2 separate regions of the Homo sapiens genome follow, and region 1 is linked to region 2. Evidence: fine-mapped expression QTL. A gene starts in region 2. The other region holds a variant in brackets. All regions are shown on one strand. Distances are between the middles of the regions.

Evidence for each region.
Region 1: its variant is fine-mapped to the expression of TMPRSS5 in testis (GTEx, PIP 0.93).

Annotation. Positions count from the first base shown.
Region 1 is chr11:113,553,351-113,569,520 of GRCh38, reverse strand. No RefSeq gene overlaps it. Among named protein-coding and RNA genes, the nearest start is that of DRD2, 86 kb to the right of the region's middle. RefSeq lists an enhancer at 15,305-15,806. The variant C/A (reference allele first, on the strand shown) is at 7,865.
Region 2 is chr11:113,701,328-113,717,497 of GRCh38, reverse strand. It overlaps TMPRSS5 (transmembrane serine protease 5), which reads left to right and starts at 11,190. Exons shown (of 13, transcript NM_030770.4): 1 at 11,190-11,276. The coding sequence starts at 11,274. It also overlaps the pseudogene MTRF1LP1.

The DNA.
Region 1 (16,170 bases), 150 kb after region 2:
TTTAAGCACTACCCCCTGAGTATATATAAATGCAAGCTATAGATTTACCCTTTTTCTAACCTGGCATGTCAGTCCCTCCTCTGGGACTGGATAGTTCAATAGCTAGGATCTTCCATATCCACAGAGAACTCTGAAGAAGAAATGTGATAGAGCTCAGACACAAAAATCTTCTGCTGAGCTTACAGGATAAAAGGGGAAGTTCCTTTCTTTATTAATTTAATAAACATTTTAAAGATATCTTTCAGTGGTGGACACTCTGTGGGTCCTTGGGGTGGGAGGGTGGGAATAAAACATTGCACAGCAGGACTTGAAAAAGCACACTTTTTATCTCATGAAATGCCAGCATTGAGTGAGGCTTTAGTGCCCTTGCAGGCCAGCTTTTCAGAGAGAAGGAATGTCATTTCACCCTGTTAGTGGAGTGACAGAGCTAGGACCTGATGGCAAGCTTGCTGATTTCTGGGTAAGTGCTCTTCATTGTCTTCAGAGAACACAGAAAACCAATTTTGAGGTTGAATCCCTGGGTAGTGAGATGACAGGTGATTGCTGGTCTGCTTGGAGGGTGGCATTATCTGGCCCTGTCCAAGCGTGTATGTGCTGGACTTCCTTGGGGCACAGAGATGGCCTGGACTCCAAATCCCTTGTCTAGAAGCTGGAATTATTTCCAGCCCCAGTGATAGCCCTCGGGGGAGGGGAGGCTAGCAGCCTTTGTAGCTGATTTAATCATGCCAAGGTGTGTGTGGGAGCCCGTGTTCCTTCTCTGCTTAATCCAAATTACATTAAAAACAAGACTCTCTTGGGGCCTCTGTTAATAATAAGTGGTTTATGCTGCTGCCTGGAGTGGGGGAATTTGTTTGCCTTTCATTCATTCTTGTCCTCCTCCCTCCTCCCCTCATCCCCGCCCCTCCTCTTGCACCTGTGGATGGCAAGAGGAAAAAAAAAAAAAAAAAAAAATAGAAAGATACTTAGCATCCATTTGTTTAAATGGATATTTAAAATAAGGATTTATTTTTTAAGACCTCATTGCCTGGGTTTCTTTACATCTCTCGACTTGGTTTCTAAGCCCCCACACAGTCTGGGCTTCCCGGGGAGGAAAAGGAATTTGCAGATCTGGTGAGCAGTTCTTGGTATTAAGCCCAGTGTGCACAGCTGGTTTTTCCACCTGCAGGGAGAATCCGGGTCCCCCACTCTGTCGTACAGCTCTGGAGGCTTGGTGGAAAAGAGAGCACTGGAGGAGAAGTCCTTCTCTGCCAGTTTTTGTGGTTTGAACTTAGGCAAGGCAGGTCACCTCTGGGAGTCCATTTCCTTAGCTGCACAACAGGAATATAGAGTCGTGTACTCACAAGGCTGGAGTGAGCATAAGGAGGAACTTATTCCTTCTAATGCTTGGAAAAGCAGCACTTTGAAAACTGTTCAGCAGGGAACACATGTGGATGGAGATTATCATTATGATCGCAAGCCCTGCTCTTCTAGAGAATACGGTTGGCTTGGTGGGGCAGTAAGGGGACCCCCTCCTGCTTTCCTCATAATGGTAGCGATAATGAGGGGTCCTGGGGACAAGTAGCAGGAGAGCAGGACCCCAGAGTCCCGCGCCAGTGACTGTGGCATCTGAGAGGCTAGGACCTGTGGCTCCACATGTGTGCAGGCTCGGAGCCCCCCATCTGCCAGCCTTTCCCGCCAGAGCACGTTGGTAAAGCTCTGATATGGCACCGGCTCTCTCCATGGGGCCCTCAATTAGGCTTTGTCTCTGGGACAGGTATGGGAATGGGACACTACAAGAGCTGGGTCTTGGTGGGTGCTGAGGCCAGGTGAGGCCAGCTCTCCTGAGTATGTGATGCCAGGGACAGATCCGTCTCCAGCCCCCGCCTCAGCCATGGTGGTCTCTGCTTCAGAGCCACCTTCCTCCAAGATGGAATTCAAAACATGTCCCCTTTCAATCCCACCTCAACAAATGAGCCCTTCACCTCTGATCTCTTTTTTTGTCTCCTCTGGACATGACAAGGATGATTTTGATATCTGTGGTTGGGTGCTTCAGAGCCCAGGTTTACGAATGAGAAACTCAACGACTCCAGAATAGAAACACCAAATTCAAGTGGGTTAAACTCCAGCCCTGACATTTAATTAGAATCTTTTCCAGCTCCCACACTTGAAGAGTACCTGTTATTTCTTTTCTTTTACTCACAATACACTGTAAGCCAGGAGCATTTTCCTGAGCTCCCGAACCTCTCATCAGAAGTCAATCACTTTGGAAGCATGATAAATACTTCTGAAAGCCTGCTGAGGATTGTGGCAGATCGTGGCTTAGGAAGTGATGAGCTTCCCGAGAGACAATGAGGAGACAGATGAGTGAGGGCAGGTGGCACGCACAAGCTCCCGGTTTTTAATCTGTCCACCATGTCCCCATATTCCTGAACAGGTCACCACCTCTCCAACTGAGTAGAGGCATCTAATGAACCTCTGGACCATTTGCCTTTGAAAATAGCAAGGAGAGAATGCATTGGAGCTGTTGGAGATGGCCTGGGAGCTCTGCCTGCCTTGCTGGGCCATGCTGGGAGTGGCTGGAAGCTTCTGGGAGCAGAGCAGTGGAGTGGAGAGAGAGTGTGGCCAGAGGGATAGTCACACTCCCAGTCTCACACATCAGTGGCCAACGCAGTGGCGAGAAGTACGGTGAAGGAGAGTGTGAAGCTGGGGCCTGGACTAGCCTTTGGAAGTCATGACAGAGACCATGAGGACAGGAACGTGTGAGACAGCAGGCAGCCTGGGTGGGAGGCTCCAGCAGAGGAAACTGGGTGCTCACGCCCTGAGGCAGGGGGAGCTGGGAGTCTGTGAGGAACAGAACAAAGTGTTTCTCACATCCAACCTCCTCTCTCCTCACCTCTGCTACCATCCTGCTTCTGGCCTCTGATCCAGTCTCTTGGCCCCTTTCCTCAGTTCCTTTGAACCCATATTACTGGTTGCTACCAGGTTAATTGGTGTAAAATATAGCTCTGATTGTAACACTCATCCAGATGCAGCTGTGTTTCCCAATGGCCCCCTGAAAGAAGGCTTTGTGTGCTGTGACCCTGTTGTTCCCATGTTTCCCACCATTTTCCTGTGTGTGGCCTCAATTTTAGCCACACTAGGCACTCACCCTCCTGCAAACATGCCTTGGGATTTTCTACTTTGGCACCTATGCTCTTGTCTGAAGTCACCCCACTTTGCCTTAGCCTCCTCCAGTACAAGCACTGAAGCCCTTGAGTCTGGAGCTCAGGAGAATGACCTGGGCTAGGGCCATACATTTGGAGACATAGGATAGAGATGGGATTTCAAGCTGGGAGGATGAAGGAGATGCCCATGGGATTCAGTGTGGGTTGACTAGAGATGACGACCAAGGACAGAGCCCTGGATTCTCCAGCTAGGATTTGATCTCTCAGCAGCCTTCTCTGTGCAGGGCTCCCTAAACTTCCATCTAGAATTCAAAGTCCAAGGAGAGAACCATGAGTTTCTCCAGGCAGGACCACCCTATCTGTTTCTGGGGGATGTCTTGATGCATAGGCTGATGACTCCAAGCTGGAATGAAGCTCTACTTTGGGTAATGGTGAGGGAAACCAACCTTCTCCTCAGCCAACAGAATTTTGTGCCACATATTCTAAAAGTCAATAACTCAAGTAACAAATATCTATAACGTTTTGTTCTCTCAATGTCAAACTCCCTCTTTGTTCTTCTGAACAAATACTGGCACCTTCTTTCTTTTCAAACTTCTCTGTCTCTCATCTATTTATGAATTTCCTTTCAGTTGCATTCTTTACATTGTATCTAAGACTTCCCTGTGTTTTAAACACGTAGATTTGAATCTCTTTCCAAGTACATGTTTTGCCTTGTTTACTATCATACCAGGTGTACCAAATGTATATTAGCTATCTTTTGGAGCTTGTTTACTTGGAGCACAAGGCCTGACTCACCTATTGAGCCCAACGCAATGACTGGAAAAGTACATATGTGGGGAATCTTAAGTTGTTCCCATAGGAAAAAGGGAATTCATGCAACTGATGCTGTAAGAACTGAAGCTTAGTTCCTGGCTTCAAGCTGGCTGTCAGTCCTACTCATTTCTTTCTGCACGTGAATCTTGAGTAAATGATAAAACAACAACAACAACAACAACAAACAAACAAACAGACAAAGGCATTTCAGAACTCTGACTCTTTTTCCACAACAGTTAATTACGGCAGCCCCTAGGGTTCCCCTGCTACTGTGCCCTTCCCCAGTATCTCCCTGAAGACAGTCAGGAGAGAAGTCACTTCGTCCTTTTTAATACGAAAACCTTGTATTTGGGTAAAATGTGTTTTGGGAAGTTATATTCTAGAAATTCTGGGAATATTCCGTATTCCTCTGACAAGACTGCAGTCTTCATCAGAGAATGGGCTGTCAAGAGGTGCTGTGGCTTTTATAGCTTAATGAGTACATTTAAATGTTGGATGCAAATTAGGCATAATATTAATGTTAGCTTCAAAGAGCAGAGAAGATAGTTAAACAGCTGTGAGGCTTTCTTCTGACTAGGCAAGCCTAGGAGTTGCATTGCCAACACAGAGACATAATGTGATAGCTTTCTGATGGCTTCTGCCAAGCCACATGGATGTAAGAACATAATGATGTAAACATAAAGTAGCTGTTCTTCATGCAGACCTGGGCAGACCACCAGAATCTGTCTATCCAAGAACTCTCCTGCTCTCTGCATTTCTCTGCCTTCCTCAGGCTGGCGAGACAGTGCATGGTGGCCACAGCGTGAATTATCTGTGGGCATGTCAGGAAGGGCATGCTCCAGCTCCCACCTGCCTGCAATAATTCCACTCGTCAGACAGCACTCCAGAGGTGCCAAATTCTATTAGCCACAGAGAGCAATATTTCCATATCTACCCCTCTAATCACCTCCCTCCTGCAAGCGGATTAATTAAAATGCACATGCAAATACATTAGTTACAAACCCAGTGTCCCTCTTCACATGCAGATGCAATCAATAGATGCTAAGATGATTTGCATAATGGAAAAAGCAAAAGGAGTCTTTACTAATGTGGCTTTTGGGGTGAAACTTGAAAACCTTGTATGCATCCTATGTAATCTAAGCCTGCCTGGGAGTCTGGCACAGCATGTGTTGTTCTCTTACGCTTCTAGGTAAACAATTGCTCTAAGATCTGAGACATTTCTCCCAGGAAGTCCTCCTTATTCTACTGTCTGCTCCCTTACTGGCCCCTCAGTGGATAGCCTCAGGTCAGGGCTGGGTCACTGTCTTGCATTTGTCCACACCTTTCATTCAGAGTGCTTTCCTTGTAAGCTGGAGGCCAGAAAAATGCCACTGTCCTCCCAAGCCCTGTCCATGCTTAATAGCTTAATTCTGAGAACATGTAACCACACCGTCTCATTGTTCAGCTGGGGACACTGAGATCCTCAGTGGAGACATCAATTGTCTAAGGCTACACTAAATAAGTAGTAAAGCTGGATCCAGAATGAAGCCAGCTCTGTGAGAGTGCCCAGAGCTGGTTGTGAGGTAGTGATTAATCAGAGATGCCTTCTTCCCTCAGGCTATCATTATTATACTGTATCACTTAGGCTCAAGGTGCTGTTATTAAACAACTCAAAGTACAAACTCAATTGCTATTTACCACGTGAGGGCTGGAGAGTTCCACAGCCTAGAGAATCTCTGTAGATTCTCTATATCAGAGATTAGATTCTCTATATCAGAGATTACTAGCATTTTTTGTTTGTTTATCAGAACACTTTTTACATGAAGAATATTTTGGGTCTCTTTTTAACACAATGCAATTGTATAAAAGTATATATTAAGAAGATAGAAAATGACAGAAAGTACTCTGACTCTAGTAGCAGTACATACATTTCAAAAATAGCTTGTACATTGGCTAAAATATTTTTTCAGCACATAGGCAAGGTTTAAAGAGCCAGTGGATTTGTGGATTCTCCAATGACTCTACTGTGCCCAGGAGTCTATGGGTTAGAGTAGAGATATCTTTGCCTTGGATTCGAAAGTCTCTGGAATAGAGCCTGTTGTTGGGATTCTTCAGGAGGCTGAGACAAGTGGTAACCAGCTGTTAAAATAAAAACTTTAGACAAGATACATTTAACAGTTTATTTGAGCATTACAGGATTCGTGAGTCAGGCAGCATTCAAAACTGGATGAGGTTCAGAGAACTCTGCTCCAGCATCACGGCAGCGAGGTTTTATAAGCTGAATGCAGAAATAAAGAAATGACTTGATTGGTTATAGCAGCATTTGCCTTACCTGGGTATGGTCGAATGGGAGATCCCCTAGTTATATAACCAGTCGGTTGGTTGACCATCTGTGATTGGCTGAAGCGCAATTCAGAATTACTCAGTTATAAGGAAGGCCTCTAAGTTAAGTTTTAGTCTGCTTGTAAGAAGGTTTTGGGTACAGAAACAACCCCATGCTAATGGCTTCCTGCCTGTTTCGCTTTAACGCGGTCAAACCAGTTTTTCTTCCAGTCATTCTAAAACCAACTGTCTGTAGGGTGAGTCTTTCAGGAGATGGCAGGAGGGAGGATTTCCAAAACATCAAGTTATGTCTGAGAAGAATGTGAATCTCAGCCCCAGAGCATGAGGTTGGTGGCTAATGATAATAATAATAACAATGGTAATCTACCATTTATTAAGTAGCTACTAAGTGCAAAAGAAGAGACTCTGCAAAGGGAGATTAGATACAGAGATAATACACCTCCCTCCAACAAAACCCAGGGTCTCATGCATACCAGCCTCTTGCATTGAGTCATGTTTTAAGAAACAAATTCTAACAACCAAAAGTAATTAAGCAGAAATTTCAGTCTTTACTGCCATCTCTCAAAGAACATTAAAATGATTGAATTCAAGCCTTGCAGTAGATCTCTCAACATTGCCTTTCCTTCTTTGGTCTCCCACACTCTGCAGCCTACTTCAGAACCTCTTACTTGGCAATTACTCCACAGTGCTCCCTGGCATTTAGCTTTAGTGTTTTTGCTGCTGTTTTCTTTTCTTCCTTGCATCTCCTGTCCCTGAGATCTTTACCAGGCGGACAGACTTAAAGCCTCTGGCATCAGCTTTAGTTTCTCCTCTGTTTGCTAATTATGTGACTGTCCATACCAAAGGGCTGTCCCGGGGACTGACTCAATAGGCAAGAACCACCTGTACCAGGATGGCCAAGTAGTTAAAGGCACTGGACTTAAGAGCCAATGGACATATGTCTGTGTGGGTTTGAACCCCACTCCTGGTGGCTTCAGATTTTTCTCTTAAAATATTTTGGCCAGGTGCAGTGGCTCATGCCTGTAATCCCAGCACTTGGGGAGGCTGAGGCAGGTGGATCATCTGAGGTCAGGAGTTCGAAACCAGCCTGGACAACATGGTGAAACCCTGTCTCTACTAAAAATACAAAAATTAGCCAGGCGTAGTGGCAGGCACCTGTAATCCCAGCTACTTGGGAGGCTGAGGCAGGAGAATCACTTGAACCCAGGAGGCGGAGGTTGCAGTGAACTGAGACCGTGTCATTGCACTCTAGCCTAGCCAACAAGAGCAAAACTCCATCTCAAAAAAAAAAAAAAAAAAAAAAAAAAAGACAAGAACCTTGTCTCTCTGCCTTCTCCCTCTCTCCTGCTTCTCTCTCTCCCTTCATCCTTCCCAATTTGTACCACAAAAAGCCAGATAATGGGGCAGAGATAGAACTCCCCTGAAAGACCAGGGGTGAGGAAAAGCTGAGCAAAATTCTTCAGACAGGGTATGATGAGGGTTAGGAAAGTGGAGAAAGTTGGATGGAGGCTGGGAATGTTGACACATTTGCACATCAATAAGCCTGGTTCCATCACATACATTTTGTGATTTAATCTTCATAGTAA[C/A]CCTTTGAGGCAGTGGATTTAACTTCATGTTTCAAGTGAGGAAAGGAGGTTAACTAGGTCAGTAAGAAGGTAAGATGACAAAGCAGTAAGAAGGTAAGATGACAAAGGTGCTGCATTGGCACTCAGAGAATTTCCCCACTTTCCTCCTTAAGTTTTGGCAGCATTTTGTTCCCAGGAGTCCTGTTCCAAATGATTCTGTGGCTCCGTGGTGTGGTCTTGGGTGTTTTGTGAGTATCTCTTTACCATTTCCTCAGTCCGAATCAATTTTTATTCCATGCTTTTGGTCTGCCTAGAACACTCTGGATTCAGGCTATGGCATGGTTGCTTTGGAGATAAAATCCTATTTTACTTCAGGTGTTCTGTATACATTCTGGCCACACTAGCTTATTCTTCATTTTCAAATGTAGCTTTATTGTACTGGTCCTTCTGCCTTTGAAAGTGCTTCACAGCCTTGCAAGCTACCTCCCACCCATAGCTTTGCCAGGCAGGACTGCAACTGGTAAGATTGGTCCTGCTGCTAGTTCCACACGGGAAGAATGGGAAGTGCATACCTGTTATGGGTTAAATTGTATCTCCTCAAAGTTCATATGTTGAAATCCTCAAACTGCTGACCTCAGGTGATCCGCCCACCTCGGCCTCCCAAAGTGCTGGGATTACAGGCGTAAGCCACCATGCCCGGCCCATATGTTGAAATCCTAACCCTCAGTGCCACAGAACATGACTGTATTTGGTTGGAGATGTGGTCTTTAAAGAGGTAATTAAGTTCAAATGAGGTCACTAGTGTGGGCCCTAGTCAAATATAACTGGCGTCCTTGTAAGAAGAGGAGATTAGGACACAGACACACACAGAAGTGTGACCATGGGAGGACACAATGAGAATTCAGTCATCTGCAACCCAAGGAGGAGGCCTCAGGAGAAACCAACCCTGCTGGTACTTTGACCTTGCCCTTCTAGCCTTCTGAACTGTGAGAAAATAACTCTGTTGTTTATGCCCCTCAGTCTGTGGTATTTCATTATGGCAGCCCTTGCAAACCAATACAGTACTCTTCTTTAGATTTGTCAGAAGCCCCTGTTCTAGAATCAATTCCATGGGAGTATAAAATAGCCAAGAAGAGCCCTAGGCCCTGTCTATGTGCCCCTCCAAGAGGCTGCTGAGCAGCCCACCCCAAGGCTAGGCAACTTTTTGGAGATTATTCTCCTCTAGGCTACAACAGTACATCTGAGAAAGTTCAGCTAAGAGGCAGCTGCCAAGCCTACAAAGGGTGTTTGGAAGGAGTGAGTGTAAAGAAGATCTCATAGACCAAGCAAAGTAGAGTCCACAGCCTCAGCATCCCCTGAGAGTGTGTTACAAATGCAAGATCTCAAGCCTTACCCCAGATCGACTGAATCAGAATCTTAATTTAACAAGAGCCTCAGGTGATCAGGATGCACATTAAAATTTGAGAAACACTGACTTTGATCCATGGGCCCTTGCATCTGATAATAGCTCACGTTGTAACTGACCTGTGTACCTCCTGCAAATCCTCTGCACAGCTGGAGAGTCCAACTGGGTTGCTTCAGGATGGCCCAGGCCAGGGGAGCTAAGGCAGTGGTGTTTAACCTTGGCTACACATTGAGATCACCTGGGGGACCTTAAGACCCCCCTACCCCCAGGGTGGAGGTTGCAGACAAGGCCGAGTAAATGAGAAACTCTGCAGGGTGGGGGTGGGGGAAACCTACCCATCAATGTATGTTTTAAGGCTTCTCAAATGATTTCAATTTGTGGACACATTTTAGAATGTATTAGTTATCTACTGCCTCATACAAACAGCCCCCAAATTTAGTGGCTTAAAATAATAGCTATTTATCTAGCTCATGATTCTATAGGTTAGCACTTTGGGCTGGGATCTGCTATTCGGTTCCTCTGGTTGCTGCTGAGAGAGCGGGAGAGAGGGAAAGAGAGAACAAGCGTGGACAAAAGCAGGCCTTCTTGAGATCTAGGCTCAGAACTGACACTGTGCTGCTCCCTCCATTTTCTACCAGTTACAGCAAGCTGTAAGGCCAGCCCAGAGTCAAGGGGTGCAGAGAGATTTCCGCTCTTGATGGGAATTGCTTGGGTCACATTACAAAAGACATGGGTACGGGGAGGAGTGGAGACCTGTGGCCATTTTTGCAGTCTAACACATTGGAAGGACAACAACTCCCTCCTTGACCAAACTTTAGTCAGGCTCCTCCAAGCCATCTTTTTGTCTAGGCCTCATCCTTAGCCCCCATCTTTGGCCTGTTGAGGCCAGTTATTTTATTTATTTATTTATTTTATTTTTAATTTTTTTTTATTTTCTGATATTATTGGAACTTTTTTTTTCTTTCCAGTTTTGGCAAGAATCCTGCTAAGCCAGTTTACTGAGAATCCCTGCATCCTTGTGGCCAATCAAGTTTCTCCTCCCCTCTACCCTTGATACCTGACAGAGTTTCTCTTAGTGATTTTCCATCCTCTCCCCCACCCTGCCTATTAGCTAGAAATCTTCAGCGGCCCCTATTGTATTTGGAGTTGATTCAGCCTCTCTCTCCTATTGCAATAGTCTTGACCCTTATTGTAATAGTCTTGAGTAAAGTCTTCTTTGCCATTTTAAAAGTGTCCAATACAACTTCTCTCTAACAGGACCACTGAGGTGGAGAAATGTCTTCTGCTCTCTTGTCCCCCTCAGCCTCCTCACACAGTGTCTCTGAAATGGCCTGAACTCTCTCCAGCTGTTACCAGGGCTGTGGAGGCTTAAGTGGCCTTTCTGAGGGAAACAGGCTAAGGCAGTTTGCTGAACGGTGTGTCCTAGTGATTTGTGTTTAAATCCCAGAGGTTCTATTTGTGATCTCAAACAAAGAGTGTTCTCTCTTAAGCTGAAATCTCTCATTTCATAAATGAGGGTAATAATACCTTCCTAGCAGAGTTGCAAAGCTTAAATAAAATATCTGTGAAGGCTGGGTGCAGTGGTTTATGCCTATAATCCCAGCACTTTGGGAGGTCAAGGTGGGCAGATCACGAGGTTAGGAGCTCGAGACCAGCCTGGCTAACATGGTGAAACCCCGTCTCTAATAAAAATACAAAAAATTAGCTGGGTGTGGTGGCATGTGCCTGTAGTCCCAGCTACTCAGGAGGCTGAGGCAGGAGAATCGCTTGAACCGGGAGCCAGAGGTTGCAGTGAGCTAAGATCATGCCACTGCACTCCAGCCTGGGTGACAGAGCGAGAGTCTCAAAACAAAACAAAACAAAAATAAGTATCTGTGAAAGCTTCTAGCTCACAGGTGTCCAGTCAATTTGGTTTTCCTTCTTTATAGCAAACTCTTATTAATTAGGATTAACAAGGGCAAAGGCCGGTCTGAATGAACGAAAGTCTAACTATAGAATTTCTCATCTGGCCCCAAAGTAGCTGTAATCTCTCAACCACGGGGTAACCACATTAAATGTTCTCTGCAAGAGGGAGGTCCTTAGAGGCCTACAAGAACAAATAGCATCTCAACAATTGGTGGTAAATAAAGAATGTAATTATCTGAATGTGGTTCATTCTTCCTTTGATCCTGTATGCATATTGCCTGTTACTGCTATACAAGGTAGGCTTTTAACACATGTTTAGTGAATGGGAATATTTTTGCAATCCCCTTTGCCCATGAGTAACACTAATAACCATAATAATGGCAGCTGTCATTCACTGAGAGCTTACTATATGCCAGGCTCTTTACGTATATCACCTCATTTAATGCTCAACTCAACCGCAGGATATGGGAGTTACCCATCTTTCCTAGATGAGGAAACTTGGGCTCAGAAAAGTTAAGTAACCTCCAGAAAAGTAGAATGCCAACTCAGCCATCTGTCTGACTTCCATCACCTCTCCTAGGTTGTTCTAGGGGATCTTTCATCTGGACCTCTGTCTGAACTCAAAATATGTCTAATTGAGCGCCCCCAAATGAATGGTTTCTCTATGGTCATGGCTGGAGATAGTGATAGCCAGCTTTCAGCAGCTTGTTTGTAGAAGAGATGTGTATTTTACCATAAAGGTCTTTTTCCATCAGGGGAGAATAGGTTTTTGAAAGAGTTCCTAAACCTGTCCTTTGGGGTCTTTGCGATACTGTCAAGGGACTTCTCAGGAGGCAGGGCTCGAATACCAGACACTGGACCAAGTTGAGGACTAGCTACAACAAGGACAGGGTGGAAGCAGCTTTCCATAAGACACGCCCACCAGTATGCTGTGTCAGTTTACCATTGCCGTGGCAACACCAGGGAATTACTGCCCCTTTCCATGGCAATGACCGGATGACCCAGGAGTTACTACCTTTTCTCTAGAAATTTATGCATAAACCACCCTCTAATCTACATGTCATTAAAAATGGGTATAAATATGACTGCAAAACTGCCCTGAGTTGCTACCCTCAGCACACTGCCTGTGGGGTAGCCCTGCTCTGCTGGAGCAGTCACGGGGCAGTAACACCACTGGAGCTGCAACATTGCCGCTTCAATAGAGCTGTTTTCTTTTACCCTGCCAGCGGCTTGCCCTTGAGTTCTTTCCTGGGTGAAGCCAAGAACCCTGGCGGGCCAAGCCCTACTTTGGGGCTTGCCTGTCCTGCATCAGTTGTAAGTTCCAGGATGCCTCCCATCTGCCAGCCATGGTAGCTCCTGCCTCTGTCTCAACTTCTCCTCTTGGTTCTGTGAATGCCTCTTAGCTGAGAAAGATTTCCAATAAACTGGACCTGACATTTTGAAAGTCTGAAGTTGGTAATTGGGCCTTCGTTCTGCCAGGTTCAGGCTGTGCTGAGGTCCACTTCTTAGCTTGATTCTTTCTTCCTAAACCTCAGGCTCCTCCAAGATGCCTTGGCCTGCTGATAATTTGCATCCTTAGGGTAGGAGGCCAGCAGGAACCAGAAACTGCAGAGAGGGCGGCTTCTGGGATGCTGCCTTTGAGGGGGTGGGGGCCGTAGGGGGATTCTCAAAACTGAGTTTCGTATCTGGGGTCCACTCTCCTCACCAGGGAAGGGGCACATGGATGGGCTTTGAAAGGTTCCTGAGCCTCCTGAAATTGTATGCAAAAGTTTGCCATTGAAATTTTCGGTGGAGAGGGTCTGAAATTTTCATCTGATTCTTAATAACGTTGAGAACCCTAAAGAACTCAAGAATCACTAGTTTAAAAATCAGGGATTGGAGAATTGGGAAGAGCTAGAGGCAACAGGAGTGTTAACTCTGGAGAAGAACAAGAGGATGAAATGGATCTTGAGTAACTCTGATGTTTTGTTTTGGCAGCGAGACTGTTTATGAACAATGCCAGTGTTCCCTGTACTTAATCTGCATTGTTGCACTCAACCCTCATAATAGCCCTTTGAAGGAGACATTGCATTCTCACTTTGCATATAAGGAAATGGGGTGCTTGGGGAGGTTAGACGACTCACCTAAAGTCACACAGCTAAGAATGGTGGAGTTTGGATTCAAACATGGTTTTATCTACCTTCAGAGGACAGATAAGATATGCAGCACGGGAAGCTAATTAGAAGTAGGGAGAAACTTTCTCCACACAGTTGACTATATGCTGAAATAGTAATGAAGAGATGTAAAGTTTAACTACTCCTAGAGATTTTATTTTATTATTTTATATATATTTTTTGAGACAGAGTCTCACTCTGTTGTCCAGGCTGGAGAGCAGTGGCGCTATCTTGGCTCACTGCAACTGCCACCTCTCAGGCTCAAGCGATCTTCCCACCTCACCCTCCCAAGTAGCTGGAATTATAGGCACATGCCACCATGCACAGCTAATTTTTTGTAATTTCTTAAAATAGAAATGGGATTTTGCCATGTTGACCAGGCTGCTCTTGAATGCCTGACCTCAAGTGATCCACCTGCGTTGGCCTCCCAAAGTGCTGGGATTACAGGCATGAGCCACTGCGCCCGCCTACTCCTAGAGATTTTAAGTAACTTCTTTCATTTTATAGCGCTCAAGTAGTACAATGTAGATTACTTTATTCAGGTCTTCCTAACAACCTGTCAAATGTATAAGGTAAATATTATTTCCTGCATTCTGCAGTGACACAGACTTCCCAGTATACTGCAAGGAGGAAGCAGCAGCTCCCTGCTGCCCAGCCCGAGATGCAGCTGCTGAGCTACAATTAGCTGGATGCTGGAGGCTGGACCTGAGGGCCTCTGGGAATTCCTTCTGGCTTAAGAGAGCCATCATTTAAAAACTGGTTTCAGTTGTAGGGGAGTCTCAACCATCAGTGACGTCTGTTGTTTTGAGTTTTCCTCCTAAAGTGCTTTTCTTTCTGCAAGATAAAAGAGAATTTCTTGGAAAAAAAAAAAAAAAGAAAACTTTTTTGTTAACACCCAAGTTATCATAAGGATACAGTAAAACCCAACATCAGAGAGACACAGGTGGTGGTGACTAACATGAGCCAACACAAGCCAAGAGCACCAGCACCCAGTGCACAAACCCCCATCACAGGCCCAGCAAGTTCAATGCAGCTCTGGTTTGGGAGGTTTTAGGAGCAAGCAGCTGTTTTATTTCTAACCACTGACTTATGGAAAGATTGAGTTGCAGTTTGTGTGTGTGTTGGGGGTGGGGGGTGGTGTGGGGAGGTGTAGGGGGATGGGACCAGGCCCTGGGGGAGGTGAGTAGGGTACAAAACATAAGTGAAGCAGCATCATTGTCTGGGGTAAATACCTGGGGTTCGTCATTTGGCGCCAAGAAGATTAGGGACACGGACACACATGGATGGGTTAAGGAGCAGAAAGTCTAATAGGCAGAAGAAAGGAGAGAGATGGACATCTGGGCATCTGAAAGGGAAAAACTGGCCTGAGGCATACCACAGCAGATTTTATAGGCAGGCTTGAGCAGGTGGTGTCTGATTTACATAGGGCCCACAGATTAGTTCCACAAGGTGTGACATATACATAGCACGAAGTGAAAGGCTGGTAGCCCCACCCTGATCTTATTATGCAAATGGGCTTTCCACTTGGCCAGGATCTTGCCTGCTCCTTATTGTACATGTGGCTGGCAAAGAGACAGGAAGATGGAGCCAAATTTTGATCATGCCTAGTCCCAGGTAGCCTATTTCTATTGACATAACTGCCGGCATTCACCCGTGCAAACTTCCAGCTTCCCTTTCTATGTCTGCAGCTCGATTTTACAGGCTGCTCTTTGTTAGAAAAGAAAATGATTTTGGGGCTGCTTTTCATTAAAAGGAAAACCTTAGTGAGGACTTCCTTACCCTCACTATCTGCCTAAATAATTTGTTTTTAACTCCTATATCTTAAGGCAGCACCCACTCTCAGAATTGCTCCTGTGTGGGGTCAGCCCTGAGAGTGGTGCCTCTTTATATTTTTCATCCTCTAAGCCTCACTCACCGCCAGCTGGGCCTGGGCCTGAGCAATAGGGTTGGGCCTTCTCATTAAAGACATTTAAAGTCCCTGTCTCCTAGCTCATAACAGTCAATGAACAGAATGCTTATTTAAATATTCTCTTCCCTCTAAAAGGAACAGTTGGGTTGCTGCAGGTGCATATGGAGTGAGCATATGTAGGGGTCTGTCCTTCAGCTAAACACCACTCCATGCTCTGGTGGGTGTGAACGCCCCCCAGTGGGTGGAACTGTTCCTATGATTAGTCATATTTTGTTTAATTTTTACTCCTAATGGATCACTGGTTGAAGAGAGGAAGTATAAGGAACACTCACATTGAAATTAAAAAAAGACAATGAGAATTGTTTGCCTCACAATCACCTTGAACAAATCAGCAAGCTGCATGTAGCTACTCAAAATTCTCATATAGCATATCAACGTGTCTCTAGTACTTCAAAAACCAATATTAAAACAGAAAAAGTGCATTTCATTTTGGTTTTTCATTTATTGGGAATAAATATTATGCATGAAGATTTTGTCTGCAGATGAGATGCTTGAAAGTAGCAGGCTGAAAGCTTCTCTTTTATCTCCTTTAGAAATAAAATATGAAATATTTTAAGAAAAAAGACTAGTTCATTCTTTAAAGTGCAAAATTTAATAATTTCAGTCATCTGGTCATCAGAGCAGTTTTTGATGCTGTAATATCTAGTCAAAATTTTAGTATGTGTTCCAGCCCCAAACCAAACACTTCAGACTAAGACGGTGTTTTAAATTTCTGAGGGAATTTCTGAGTCATCCTTCTGTGAAACGACTGGAATGTGCGGGTGTGAAAGAAAGAGTCTAAGCTTTGGAGCCAGAGAGAACTGACTTGGGAATCCTCCCGGACCATGCCACACCACAGGAATCCTTCCGGACCACACCAATCCTGCTGCTCTTGTAGCTTCGGTTTCCACATCTG
Region 2 (16,170 bases):
ATTGCCTAGGTTTTCTTCTAATTTTTTTTATGGTTTTGGGTTTTACATTTAAGTCTTTAATCCAGCTTGAGTTAATTTTTGTGTAAATGTGTAAGGAAGGGGTCCAGTTTCAGTTTTCTGCATATGGCTAGCCAGTTTTCCCAACACCATTTTAAGTAGGGAATCCTTTCCCCATTGCTTGTTTTTGTCAGGTTTGTCAAAGATCAGATGGTTGTAGATGTGTGGTGTTATTTCTGAGGCCCCTGTTCTGTCCCATCAGTCTGTATATCTGTTTTTGTACCAGTAACATGCTGTTTTGGTTACTGTAGCTTTGTAGTATATTTTGAAATCAAGTAGTGTGATGCCTCCAGCTTTGTTCTTTTTGCTTAGGATTGTCTTGGCTATGTGGGCTCTTTTTTAGTTCCATATGAAATTTAAAGTAGTTTTTTCTAATTCTGTGGAGAAAGTCAATGGTAGCTTGATAGGGATAGCAGTGAATTGGGTAGTCAGGGAGAAAGAAACCAGCTCTGGTTAATCTAAAATCTGCTCTTGAAGGAGAGCAGAGCTGGTTTCAGCAGCTCCTGATCGCCCTATAATTGTGAGTATTCCACTGTCATGCAACACCAGAGCCATCTCTCACACTACTCAAACATGACTTACAGAGGCTCAGGGCAACTGAGCTACCTTTTTCCAGAAGTGGGACTCTTACAGAGAGAAGAGGGCCAGCCAGAGTCCCTACGGGCTGTGCCAACCAGGGTGACAAAGAAGATGGAGAGCTGTGTGCTCAATCATTTAGTCCTGCTTTCACTTACCTCTTTCTTATCCCAGGGGAAAAAAAAAAATGTCATTGCGGGTTAAAGGTGGACTTAATGACCTTGTCTTGTAAGGTGATTTCTGCTCATCCATTATTTTATTTTACAAATATTTACTGAATACCCATTGTGGTAGTTACTAGTGCTGTTCATGTATTTCTGGCTCTGTGCTTCGCTGCATATTGTAGGATTGCATTTTCATGGTCTCCTCATGGTTGGGCAGAAGCATGTGACATCTTGGGCTAATGAACTGAAAGTGGCCAGAACATTTAATTTCCAGTGTGAAGTCCTCCAGAACCCTCTTTCTTTCAGCCACTGTGACCAGTAACATTCCAGATGGAGGCTACTCTATTGTTTGGGTTTTTAACTGAGGATATGTGGACAAAAGTCCCCAGCTTGATCCCTGTGAACCTGAAGCATAGGTAAGAAATAAACCTTTGTTGTTTTAAGCCACTGTGACCTGGGAGGTGCTCCCTACTACAGCATAACCTGGCCTATCCTGGCCTATACGCTTAATATGTACCAGACTGTGCTAGACACTGGAGACACAATGCCTCACTCCAACACAATGGATCTCTTTGAGTAGAATTTTGGCTGTGTGGCAGCTGATGGAGGAACACAGCTCTTTTTACAAAGATGATGTAAGTCTGTCCAAGGTAATGGCACACCATATACCATGGAAAGATACTCAGGGTAACTGATGATTTTAAAAATAACTCTTTTGTGACACAACTTTCCCTCCTCCAATTCCTGCTGCTCCTACTAGGCCTAAAGAAGACTGAGAAGCTTAGCTGAGATGTTGCTTCCCCAGAATCACCAGGGTAAAAACAGACACAAGGACCCCCATTTAGAGGGGTGATGTTTCAGGGAGTTTCAAATAGGGCCAAGGGATGACTGTTTTAGTATCAAGCTTCCCAGGGGATTCCAGTGAACCACCCAGGGTTAAGAGCCATTGGCCTGGGGGCCAAAACTGTGAGGGAAAAGATCAGTCATGTTGCCTGATGCTTTCTTGGGTATCTTCAATAGGAAAAACCAAGTCCAGAGCAAACTCAGGGTTCACTGGCTAGAGCTTGCCCTGGAAAATTTGGAAATAGGCCTGTCTCAGCCTTCCTTTCCCTGGTGACCTTCTGTCATTCCTCTGCCAGCTCTTTCCAAACCCTGTCCCTCCAGCAGAACCTGACTTCTGAGCCACTCCTTCAGGGCTGGTTAGGTACTGTCAGCCTGCAGATGCTACCATGCACTATTCCCAGGGTTAGGGTTTCAATACGGTCAGTGTAAACCATGACCTCAGCATGACACTGTGGAACTCAGGGCTGCTGATTCTATTTGAGCCCACACTATCTACTTTTACCACCTATCCTCTCAGGTCACTCCCTTTGGTGTATTTGTTTGTCATCTCAAGTGGATTATAAACTCCTTTGAGAGCAGGGACTACAATGTATTCATAGTTTCCATGTTTTAATTCCTCTTTGGATAATTGACAGTTGGCTGTAGTTTGTTTTAATCATTATTTTGGAGTCTTTAGTGACCCCTTTCCATTTTCATTACCCAGGTTAATAGAAATTAGAATCTACATAAAAATTGCTATATTATCCTTAGAAACCTAGAAACCAAGGGGTTTAATAGGGCCTATTCTAGGATAACTTGTGTTATACTAGAAACCAAAGGTTTGAATACAGCCTCCTCCAGAATGATTAAGTCACAGCCAGCCTGATGGTAATGAGAATGGCCAGAGCTGGGGGCTGAGTTAGGGAGGATGCTGGCTGCCAAGACTTGTGTAAAAGTGATATGAGATCTCCCCACTAAGCACCCAAGCCACTACCAGCCTTCTTGAGGGAGAATCTAGATGAAAGGGGCAGACAGAGGACCAAACTGGTCAAGAACTAAGCTGCTATATTCTTTCTCCATTCCAAGATGGCTGAATAGGAACAGTTCTGGTCTGCAGCTCCCAGCATGATCAACGCAGAAGATGGGTGATTTCTGCATTTCCAACTGAGGTACCTGGTTCATCTCATTGGGACTGGTTGGACAGTGGGTGCAGCCCATGGAGTGGGAGCCAAAGCAGGGCGGGGCATCGCCTTACCCAGGAAGCACAAGGGGTCAGGAGATTTCCCTTTCCTAGCCAAGGGAAGCTGTGACAGACTGTACCTGGAAAAACGGGGCAGTCCTGCCTAATTCTGCGCTTTTCCAATGATCTTAGCAAACGGCACACCAGAAGATTATATCCCATGCGTGACTTGGTGGGTCACACGCCCACAGAGCCTTGCTCACTGCAAGCGCAGCAGTCTGAGATTGACCTGTGAGGCAGCAGTCTGGCAGGGGGAGGGGCGTCTGCCATTGCTGAGGCTTGAGTAGGTAAACAAAGTGGCCGGGGAAGCTTGAACTGGGGGGAGCCCACCGCAGCTCACCAAGACCTGCTGCCTCTGTAGACTCCACCTCTGGTGGCAGGGCATAGCAGAACAAAAGGCAGCAGAAACTTCTGCAGACTTAAACATCCCTGTCTGACAGCTCTGAAGACAGCAGTGGTTCTCCCAGCACAGTGTTTGAGCTCTGAGAAAGGACAGACTGCCTCCTCAAGTGGGTCCCTGACCCGTGTGTAGCCTAACTGAGAGACACCTCCCAGTAGGGGCCGACTGATACCTCCTACAGGTGAGTGCCCCTCTGGGATGAAGCTTTCAGAGGAAGGATCAGGTAGCAATATTTGCTGTTCTGCCGCCTCTGCTGGTGATACCCAGGCAAACAGGGTCTGGAGTGGACCTCCAGCAAACTCCAACAGACCTGCAGCTGAGGGACCTGACTGTTAGAAGGAAAACTAACAAACAGAAAGCAATAGCATCAACATCAACAAAAAGGACATCCACACCAAAACCTCATCTGTAGGTCACCAACATCAAAGACCAAAGGTAGATAAAACCACAAAGATGGGGAGAAACCAGAGCAGAAAAACTGAAAATTCTAAAAACCAGAGCACCTCTTCCACTCCAAAGGATTGCACCTCCTTGCCAGCAACAGAACAAAGCTGGATGGAGAATGACGAGTTGACAGAAATAGGCTTCAGAAGGTCGGTAATAAGAAACTTCTCTGAGCTAAAGGAGGATGTTCTAACCCATTGCAAGGAAGCTAAAAACCTTGAAAAAAGATTAGATGAATGGTTAACTAGAATAAACAGTGTAGAGAAGATCTTAAATGACCTGACGGAGCTGAAAACCATGGTGCAAGAACTACGTGATGCACGCACAAGCTTCAATAGCCGATTCGATCAAGTGGAAGAAAGGGTATCAGTTATTGAAGATCAAATTAATGAAATAAAATGAGAAGAGAAGTTTAGAGAAAAAAGAGTAAAAAGAAATGAACAAATCCTCCAAGAAATATGGGACTATGTGAAAAGACCAAATCTATGTTTGATTGGTGTAGCTGAAAGTGACAGGGAGAATGGAACCAAGTTGGAAAACACTGTTCAGGATATCATCCAGGAGAACTTCCCCAACCTAGCAAGGCAGGCCAACATTCAAATTTAGGAAATACAGAGAACACCACAAAGATACTCCTCGAGAAGAGCACCCCAAGACACGTAATTGTCAGATTCACCAAGGTTGAAATGAAGGAAAAAATGCTAAGGGCAACCAGAGAGAAAGGTCAGGTTACCCACAAAGGGAAACCCATCAGACTAACAGCGGATCTCTCGACAGAAACTCTACAAGCCAGAAGAGAGTGGGGGCCAATATTCAACATTCTTAAAGAAAAGAATTTTCAACCCGGAAATTTCATATCCAGCCAAACTAAGCTTCATAAGTGAAGGAGAAATAAAATCCTTTACAGACAAGCAAATGCTGAGAGATTTTGTCACCACCAGGCCTGCCTTACAAAAGCTCCTGAAGGAAGCAATAAACATGGAAAGGAACAACTGGTACCAGCCACTGCAAAAACATGCCAAATTGTAAAGACCATCGATGCTAGGAAGAAACTGAATCAACTAACGGGCAAAATAACCAGCTAACATCATAATGACAGGATCAAATTCACACATAACAATATTGACCTTAAATGTAAATGGGCTAAATGCCCCAATTAAAAGACACAGACTGGCAAATTGGATAAATAGTCAAGACCCATCAGTGTGCTGTATTCAGGAGACCCATCTCACGTGCAGAGACACACATAGGCTCAAAATAAACGGATGGAGGAAGATCTACCAAGCAAATGGAAAGCAAAAAAAAGCAGGGGTTGCAATCCTAGTCTCTGATAAAACAGACTTTAAACCAACAAAGATCAAAAGAGACAAAGAAGGCCATTACATAATGGTAAAGGGATCAATTCAATTAATTAATCTCAGTAGGCTGGGGTAATATTGCTACTGTCATGGTGCTAGTATGGATGCAGCCTTGCTTTTCTGTCTTTGGCACTCTTTGTACTCTGTGCACACCTCCTTCAAATTTCATGTGCCTATAGACTTCTGAACCCCCAGTGCTGGCAGACGCATGTCTACGGCCACCTATTTCACTTGGAAAATATTCCAGGGTTTCAAAATGTCATCTTTTAAATGCAGCATATTGCTGATACCTATCAAATATCTCTGAAGTAAACAACATTGCCTCCTGACCTCCAACTCCTGCAGTTACTTCCAGGATCAAATCATTTTCATCTGTTTCTTCTGATGCTTCAGCTGAGTTATTTCTTTTTGACACAAAGTTATTTCATTCTCTGCAAGTTTCCTTAAATCTTCATTCTCATGGTGCAGCAAGTGCTCGGTCTCCTGCAGCTCCTGCTCCTTCTCGTTCAGCAGTTTTACCACTGTCACCAGCTCGGGCCTCCTGACCTTCAAATGGGCCTCAGACCCCGCCTGGAGCTTGAGAAAGGTCCACAAGGGCCTGCCCTGGGCGAACAGCTCCTCCAACAATGGGCCACCGGAGCTCAGGGAATGGCAAGCTGGGCCAATGGCCCCATGGGGCCAGAGCCACCGGGCAGTGCCCCACAGAAAATGACTCTTTTTTTTTTTCAAGATGGAGTCTATCTCTGTCACCCAGAATGGAGTATAGTGGCACGATCTCAGCTCACTGCAAACTCTGTCTCCTGGGCTCAAGTGATTCTCCCACCTCAACCTCCTGAGTAGCTGGGATAACAGGTGCATGCCACATACCTGGCTAATTTTTGTATATTTAGTAGAGAAGGGGTTTCATCATATTGGTCAGGCTGGTCTTGAACTCCTGCCCTCAAGTGATCCACCCACCTCAGCCCTCCAAAGTGCTGGGATTACAGGTGTGAGCCAACGTGCCTGGCAGGATTAACTCTTTTATCATTATAAAATGTCCTACTTTGTCTCTCACAATGATTTTTGTCTTAAAGTCTATTTTGTCTGATATTATTATAGTTATTCCAGCTCTCTTTTGGTTTCTGTGTACATGGAACCTCTTTTTCCACCCTTTGCCTTCAACGTATTTTGTCTTTAAAACTAAAATATGTCTCTTATATATAGTATATAGCTTGATCATGGCTTTAAAAATTCATTCTGCCAATTTCTACCTTTTAATTGAAGAGTTTCATCCATTTACACTTAGTGTAACTACTGATAAGGTAGGATTTATGTCTATTATATTGCTATTTGTTTTTTATATGTCTTATGTGTTTTTGTTTCATTTCTGCCTTGTGTTAAACAGTTATTTTCTAGTGTTCCATTTTAACTCCTCTGTCATTTCTTTTACTATATACATTTTAAGTTATTTTCTTAGTAGCCTGATAATTTCAATTAACATTTTAAATTATAACAATCCATTCAGATTAATACCAATTTAATTTTAATAGTATAAAAATCTTTGCTCTTATTACTTCCATTCTTTTCTTACTTTGTGCTGTATTGTCATACAAATTATATATTTTTGCACCATATACCCATCAATACAGATTTATAATTATGGCTTTATGCAATTGTCTTTAAAGTCAGATGAGAGAACAAAAAGAATTACAAACAAAAAAATGCATTTATACTGTCTTTTATGTTTACCTATATACTTTCCTTTACTAGCATTTTTTATTTCTTAATGTGGATTCAAGTTACTGTCTTATATCTTTTTATTTCAGCCTAAAGGACTCCCTTTAGTATAGTCATGCATCACTTAATGAAGGAGATACATTCTGAGAACTGTGTTGTTAGGCGATTTTGTCATTGTGTGAAATAGAGTGTACTTACACAAACCTAGATGGTATAGCCTACTACACACCTAGGCTATGTGGCATAGTCTACTGCTCTGAGGCTACAAACCTGGATAGCATATTACCATACTGAGTACTGAAGGCAACTGTAACACAATACTAAGTATTTATGTATCTAAACATAGGAAAGATACATTAAAAATACAGTATAAAAGCTTCATTATAATCTTGTGGGACCACTGTTGAATATGTGGTACATTGTTGACTGTCATGTGGCACATGACTGTATTTCTTGTAGGACAGGTTTGCTAGCAATGCATTCTCTTAGTTTTTGTCTATCTGAGATTATCTAAATTACTATTTCACTTTTGAAGGGTAGTTTTGCTAGATACAGAATTTTGGTTGACAATCTTTTTCTTTAAGGAATTGAATATGCCATTCTGGCTTCCATGGTTTCTGATGAGAAGCCAACTCTTAACTGTTAAACTGTTGATTGAAGATCCCTTCGTATGTGATAAGTTGCTTTCCTCATGCTGCTTCCAAGAATCTTTCTTGTCTTTGGCCTTAAACAATTTGATTATGATGTGTTTACGTGTGGATCTCTTTGATGTATCCTATTTGAAGTTTATTGAGTTTTTTTGCATGTGCAGATTAATATTTTTCATCAAATTTGTAAAGTTTTTGGTCATTATTTTTTCAAATATTATTTCTGCTTCCTCTCTCTTCTCTTTCTTGGATTCTCATTACACACACGTACACACACACACACACACACACACACACACACACTACATATTTTTGATGTTATCTCAAATGTCTCTGAACCTTTGTTCATTTTTCTCCATTCTTTTTTCCTTTCTATCCCTTAGACTGTATAATATCAATTTACATATCTTTAATTCACAGATTCTTTCTTCTGCCTGCTCAGATCTGCTGTTGAGCCCTTCTAGTAAATTTTTCATTTCAGCTATCATACTACTCAACTCCAGAATTTATATTTGGTTCTTGAAAAAAATATATAATTTCTATCTCCTTGTTGATATTCATTACCTGATAAGATATTATTCTCATACCTTTTTCTAGTTCTTTGGATATGGTTTTCTTTACTTCTTTGAATGTATATAGAATAGCTGATTTAAAGTTTTCATCTTATAAGTTCAATATATGGGCTTCAGGGACAGTTTTTATCAATTATTTTTTCCCCCGGTGTATGTGCCTTACTTTCTTGTTTCTTTGTGTGCCTCATAATTTCTTATTGAAAACTGCATTTTAAATAACATAATATAATACAGCAACTTTGGAAATAACCTTCTCTCCCTTCCTCAGGGTTTGTTGTTGTTGATGTTGCTTCTTTGTGTGTTTAGTGACTTTTCTGAGCTAATTCTGCAAAGTCTGTGTTTTTTGTCATGTGTGGCCACTGAAATCTCTCTCTGCTTAGTGTTCAGCTAGTAATTAGACAGAGAGTTTCTTGATGCTTGAGACCAATAAGTCACCTTGTTTTTGCAGAGTGGCTCTGTGTGTATGTTGGGACATGCCTTCAACTCTCAGACAGGACATTGACAACTCCACCTTAGCCTTCCTGCTTGTGCAGAGCCTTAAGCTTAGCCCAGGGTGAGAGCTCAGGACCTTCCTTAGTTTTTCCTGCACATGTGCACAGCCCTGGGCATGTGCACCCTCCTGTGCGTACATATGGCTTTCTATATTCCTTGGGATATTTCAGAGCCTTTCAAGGCCCTTTATAGATATTTTATTCCCCCACATTTTCTTTTTAAGCTTTTTGTTTAGCCCTTTTTTTTTTTTTGCCTCAACTGTTATCCATTGTTTTAGGCAGCCACAAAGTCCAACAATTGTCTCTAGTTGTTTTCAACAAATACCCTTAAGGAAAAAGCTGTTCACTCCAGGCAAGCTTTGAGACAGGTGAAATAAAGACAGTCTTGCAAATGGTATCTTCCAGGGAACCACTAGACAGGTCAAATAATTACAACTCTCTGGGAATGAGGCTTTGAAGGAACTCCAAGGCTGTTCTACCCCTTCTTGTAGCTGCCAGGCTGCTGGTTTCCATGATGATTGTGGTTTGTTGGTTTTCAAAGCTACTGCAGAGTTGGGGTGAGGGGGATGGAATTGGAGCAAGTTAAAATGCCACAAGGCTCACTCTTCTTTCTATAATTATGTCATTTTTTTTCTTGAACGAAGACTTCCCAGATTGCTATAAACTTTTGATTAATTTCCAGAGTTCTGAAAAAATTGATTCTCACCATTTTTTGCCATTTTTCTCATTGCTTTTAGGGGGGAGGAAATTTTCAGAGGATTTTACTCCTACCATTTTCATTGACATTACGTGCAATATATTTTAATTACCCTTCTTTGTGATTGCTTTGTCACTTCTCAAAACTCAGTTCAAATGTCTCCTCCATTGCAAAGCCCTCTTCTTTGTATCCTCAGGGCAGCTATTCCTCTATTCTCCTATACCTCTGGGTTTATGTCTTTGTTATTTCACTTTTCATAATAACAGTTACTTACATCTGTTTCTATCCCTTTTTCCAGTCTGTAAGCACCCAGTCTGTGACTTGTTCATCCTCCATGCCCAGGCTAGTTTCTGACACACGGTAGATATTCAGGTTTGTAGTCTGAAGAGTATTGTCCTAGGAGACCTCAGAGCCTAGCCAAGGGCTTCTGAGTTCCAGCCACCATTTCTCTCCTTCTTCTATAATTCACAGCTGACCTCTATCTCTTCATTGTCTTATGTGTGCTCTGGTGTGATGAGAGTAAGTTCAGAATTGACACACTGAGTGTATGATATGGTTTGGATCTGTGTCCCAACCCAAATCTCATGTCAAATTATAATCCTCAATGTTAAAAGTGGACTCTGATGGGAGGTGATTTGATCATGGGAGTGGATCCTTCATGATCAAGAAACCTTCATGATTCATCATCCACTTGGTGCTATTCTCGTGATAGAGTTCTCATGAGATCTGGTTGTTTAAAAGTGTGTGGCACCTCCCCCTTCTCTCTCTTGCTCTTGCTCCTGCCATGTTAGAGGCCTTGCTCCCCCTTTTTCTTTCACCATGATTGGAAGCTTCCTGAGGCCTCCCCAGAAGCAGAAGTCACTGTGCTTCCTGTACAGCCTGTGGAACAGTGAGAACTTCTTTTCTCTTGAAATTGTCCAGTCTTAGGTATTTATTTATAGCAGTGCAAGAATTGACTAATACAGTGTATGAGGAAAATAGGGAGCAAAAAGTTAAATCCTGTGTGGGTGACATTCAGCAACAACAACAACAACAACAACAACAATAATAATAGCAGCTACTGTTTGCTGAATACAGTCTGTGCTAGACACCAGGCTATGGGCTTTATAGGCAATATCTCAATGAATTCTGACATCAACCCTATGAGGCATGTACTATTATCCTCATTTTACAGGTGAGGCTGAGTAAGGGAAGTGGGAGAACTGAGGTTGGATGAAGGCCTGACTCTAAAGCCTATATTCTTAACTGTCCCTTCTGAGGGGTTTTTGAGCAGCCAGTTGGAGGAAAGGAAGCCCCACCTGTGTTTGCCTTCCCCAGGACCTATTCTGCCTCCTTGTCTAAAGAGATGTGCCTGCTCCCAGGTGTGTTTAGCCCCGTGTGGGCTCACTTGGGTCACCTTGTGCTTTGAAACAAGATAGCACTGAGGGCTCCTGCTGCAACTGGCTCCCAGGGCAGACAGGGGTAGAGGCCCCACTTCCCTGGCATTGGGGAGACAGATGTGGCCCTCGGGCAAGAGGTGACAAAGATCTTCCATCATCACCCCAACAATTCCAACATGGTGACAGCCCCAGACTGCTAGAAAAGCCAACCCACATGGAGGCGAGATAAAATCCAGAGGGCTCAGAAACATTTCAACAAATGCTAATATCGGTCTCTCCAATACAGCTCTGTCAGCAGGAAGGGAGAATTCTGCCAGCATGCATGCATGGGGCACACTTTTTGGCACAAGGGACCTTGTTGCTAAGCAACAGTAGTTGGCCTCCCCTCCTCCCCATAACCTTTTCCTCTGTTTCTGAGTTTCCAGTTAGCAGATGGGAGGGGCTGGGGTTGCCTAGCCCAGCCCAGCCCTTGTCCCCCTTTCCTGCAACAAGGGGCCTATTCATGGGTCCTCAGCAGAGTTCATTGTCTCTGTGGCGCGTGTCTGTGTGAGTGTTGGAGTAGGGATACAGGGAGGGGCCATGTGCGAACCAGGGAGACCTCATCTTCCAACCAAGCTTGCTGGGCTAGCTTTAATCAATGCTGGCCTGAGAACAGGAGCGGAACATTGCCTAGTAGACCCTGAGGCTTTACAACAGTGCCACTGACCCCTATGGTAAGGTTACGTCTCTGTGCCATCCCTGCTGTGGCCTCTCTCTCTTTCTTTCTCTCTCCCTCCTCTGCCCTTGGGATTCTAGGCTGGTGGAAAGAGCCTCCTGAGGCAGCTCTGGTACAGGGGCTGGATCCTAGCAGGGGCCCTGTGTGGCCAATTTCCTGTTTCCTCCCCAGGGACTGCCCTTTATTATCCTCTTTCATCCCTCTTAGATCTATCAAGTGCTTTGCACATATGTGGTGCTCAACAAATCGTTATTACGTTGAACTTCCACTCAAAAAGAGGAGCAAGGAGTCCTGTAATTTTAAAGGCCATTTTTTTTTCTAGGCTAGCACATGAGCTTGGGCAGTTGAATTTTGAGGTGGAGCAGTACATGAGGTGAGGCCAGTTTATTCAGAGGCTGGGTTTAAAGCCAAGCTTCCTTGGTACTGAGGCAGAAGAAAAGACTGGCCATGCCCTGGAATTCTCTCTAGATCAGGCCTGCCTCTCCACTCAGAGGGACATCAGCTCAAGAGCAATCACACAACCCCAGAGAAGAAATCCAAACCTCACCTTCTGTTGCTGCTTCTCTACTATCTTATGGGTGCTTGACTGGCTCTCCCAAGCCTGCTGTCCTGCAGCCTCACTGCCTGTGTCCTGTGAGTCTCATCTGTAGGCACAAGAAAGAATGTGTGTGGTTTGATACAAACCATGACCTCTGTTTCTCCTGGAAAAGCAAGGCCTGCAGCTCTTGGGAGGTCCAGTCCTATAGGTCCTGGGCTGTGGCTGGTGTAGGGAATAGGGAGGTGGGGCTGGTACCTCTTTCTATAGGCAAGATGTTGGGGCTGCTGCGCTGTCTGTGAGCTGAACTGGCATGGGTGCTCTGGGTCCAGTGGAATGATTTTCGGGGCAATTTGGAGGTGACTGACCTAGGTGAGTCTGACAAAGTCTTTCCTTCCTCCTGCTGGAGGGTTAGGAAGACAGTTCAGTGGAGTACGAAGGCATGACTGGGGAGGTTTTGGCGTGAAAAGAACATTTCATGTGACACATGAAAATCACATTTAAGCCAATACTGTCCTGGAGTCAGCATTTCAGGCTTTTATCCTCATTGGGTACAACCCTATGTGTTGACAGGGAAAGATGCAGGGGAGACAGTAGTCTGCAGGGGAAACGGGAGTTGCTTCAGTTTTGAGAGATCTTATCTACCCTACTGGATTATAAATTTTGGGGGGAAGGATCCACAGCTTAGGTGTAGTTCTTATTAATATTATTATACTTAACATTTGTATTGGGCTTTACAATTTTTAAAGTCATTTTAATTCACATTATCTTATTTGTACCTCCCCCTCTGTCTCTCCCTCCCCCCTCCCTTCTTTCCTTCCCTCCTTTAATGTACTTTAACTGAATTCCCACTTTGTGCCAGGCTCTGTGCTTAGCCCTGGGATGCAAAAACCAGTGAGAAAGGAGAGAGAAGGAAGTAAATGAGCACAATATAGGGCCCAACAGGTGCTGTATGCATAGAAGGAAGCTTCCTGGAGAAGTGATGTCTGTGCTGAGTCTCGAAGGGTCAGTTGGAGTCAGTTACATGGGAAAGGGGAGAGCAGATGCAAAGTCTCTCTGTTGTGAGAGTGCCTGAAGGCACTGAAGTATGGCACGTATGTCAGTGTGATCCCAAATTTTGCTGTGGAGGGAGCAAGTGCTGGCAGTGAGGATGGAGAGGTGAGGCCAGGCGAGATCATGGAGGACTTTGTGAGCGATGCCATGGAGCTCCTGTTTGATCCTGAAGGCCACAAAGACTCATGGGGTAGAGATGGGGCTCACATGCTCATATTTGCATTTTAGAAAGATTACTCTGACTTTATGGCATGGAGAATAACAGAGAGAGACAAGATACTCGAGGAGGGAGATTATTCCTTGGAAAGCAGGAGTTATTACTCTTATTTTACAAATGAGAAAATTGAAATTTGAAGAGATGGCCTGAGTTGTCCAAGTTCACATAGTAGGTTGCAGACTTAGCTTTGAACTGTCTGGTGTTTTTTTTAAGATCTTATTTTCATTACTCCTCTTCATGGCTCATGAGCTGCAGACACACATATGACATACTCTGCTCTATGCTTTCTTATCCCTTTGCCTTTGCTGATTCAATCCTCTTTGTCTGGACTGCCCAATGCCCATTATATCAGCTCAAACCCTCTTCATCCCTGTGGGCCTGTCTCAGAGGCTGCTTTTTCTAGGAAGCCTTCTGTGATCACCTCAATGAGAAGTAAGCCCTTATTCTTTTGAATGATGATGGTAGTGTATTAGTCTGTTCTCACACTGCTATGAAGAACTGCCTGAGACTGGGTAATTTATAAAGGAAAGAGATTTAATTGACTCATAGTTCTGCATGGCTGGGGAAGCCTCAGGAAACTTATGATCATGGTGGAAGGGGAAGCAAACACACTCTTCTTCACATGCTGGCAGGAGAAAGAAGTGCAGAGTAAAGGGGGAAATCCCCTTATAAAACCATCAGATCTTGTGAGAACTCACTCACTATCATGAGAATAGCATAGGGGAACTGCCCCCATGATCCAATCACCTACTATGAGGTCCCTCCCCCAGTGCGTGGTAATTACAATTCAAAATTACAATTCAAAATGAGATTGTGGGTGAGGGGAGAGCCAAATCATATCATTCTATCCTGGTCCCTTCCAAATCTCATGTCCTCATTTCAAAACACAATCATGCCTTTCCAACAGTCCCCCAAAGTCTTAACTCGTTCCAGCATTAACCCAAAAGTCCAAGTCCAAAGTCTCATTTGAGACAAGGCAAGTCTCTTCTGCCTATGAGCCTGTAAAATCAAAAGCAAGTTAGTTACTTCCTAGATACAATGGGATACAGGCATTGGGTAAATACACCTATTCCAAATGGGAGAAATTGGTCAAAATAAAGAGGTTACAGTCCCCATGCAAGTCTGAAATCCAATAGGGCAGTCGTTAAACCTTAAAGTTCCAAAATGATCTCCTTTGACTACATGCCTTATATCCAGGTCACGCTGATGCAAGAGGTGGGCTTCCATGGCCTTGGGCAGCTCTGCCCTTGTGGCTTTGCAGGGCACAGCCCCACTTCTGGCTGTTTTCATGGGCTGCAGCTTTTCCAGGCTCACAGTGCAAGCTGTTGGTGGATCTACCATTCTGGGGTCTGGAGGATGGTGGCCTTCTTTTCACAGCTCCACTAGGCAGTGCCCCAGTGGGAACTCTGTGTGGGGGCTCCAACCCTACATTTCCCTTCCATACTGCCCTATCAGAGGATCTCCATGAGGGCTCCATCCCTGTAGCAAACATCTGCAAGGGCATCCAGGTGTTTCCATACATCCTCTGAAATCTAGGTGGAGGTTTTCAAACCTCAGTTATTGACTTCTGTGCACCCGCAGGCTCAACACCACAAGGAGGCTGCCAAGGCTTGGGCTTGCACCCTCTGAAGCAATGATCTGAGCTGTACCTTGTCCCCTTTTAGCCATGGCTGGAGCTGATGCAGCTGGGACACACAGTACCATGTCTCAGGCTGCACAGAACAGGGGGTCCTGGCCTGGCCCACAAAACCATTTTTCTCTCCTGGGCCTCTGGTCTGGTAATGGAAGGGACTGCTCTGCGGGTCTCTGACATGCCCTGGAGATATTTTCCCCATTGTCTTGGTGATTAACATTTAGCTCTTCATTACTTATGCAAATTTCTGCAGCAGGCTGGAATTTCTCCTCAGAAAATGGGTTTTCTTTTCTATCACATCATCAGGCTACAAATTTTCCAACCTTTTATGCTCTCTTTCCTCTTGAACACTTTGCTGCTTAGAAATTTCTTCTGCCAGATACCCTAAATCATCTCTCTCAAGTCCAAAGAGCCACAGATCTCATGACAGTGTGATCTAGAACCAGAAATACCATTTGACCCAGCAATCCCATTACTGTGTATATACTGAAAGGATTATAAATCATCTTACTGTAAAGACACATGCACACATATGTTTATTGCAGCATTATTTACAATAGCAAAGACTTGGAACCAACTCAAATGCCCATCAATGATAGACTGGATAAAGAAAATGTGGCACATATACACCATGGAATACTATGCAGCCATAAAAAGAATGAGATAATGTCCTCTGCAGGGACATGGATGAAGCTGGAAGCCATTATTCTCAGCAGACTAACACAGAAACACCACATGTTCTCACTCATAATGGGAGTTGAACAGTGAGAATACATGGACATGGGGAGGGGAACAACACACCCCGGGGCCTGACTGGGGGTGGGGGACAAGGGGAGGGAGAGCATTAGGACAAATACCGAATGCATACAGGGCTTAAAACCTAGATGACGGGTTGATGGGTGCAGCAAACCACCACGGCACATGTATACCTATGTAACAAACCTGCAAGTTCTGTGCATGTATCCTGGAAGTTAAAGTAAAATAAAAAAATTAAAAAAAAAAGAAAGACTATATGTCACATGGTTTCATTTATATGAAACTATAAAAAAGGGAACTCTAATATACAGTGAGAGAAACAGATCAGTGATTTTCCAGGGCTGTGAGTTGGGGAGGAGTTAACTGCAAAAAGGCAGAAGGAAAATTTCTGGGGTGACCTTCATGTCCTATATTTTGACTGTGTTGGTCATGTGGGTGTACACATTTGTCAAAGTTTTGATCTGAGAACTTAAAATGTATGTAATATTTTGAGTGTGCATTATGCCTCAATAAAGTTGAACAAAACACCCCCCCCCGCCAAAAAAAAACCACCAAAGTTCCACAGATCTCTAGGGCAGGGGCAAAATGCTTCACTTTTTTGCTAAAGCATAGCAAGAGTCACCTTTCCTTCAGTTTCCAAGACGTTCCTCATCTCCATCTGAGACCACCTCAGCCTGGACTTCATTGTCCATATCACT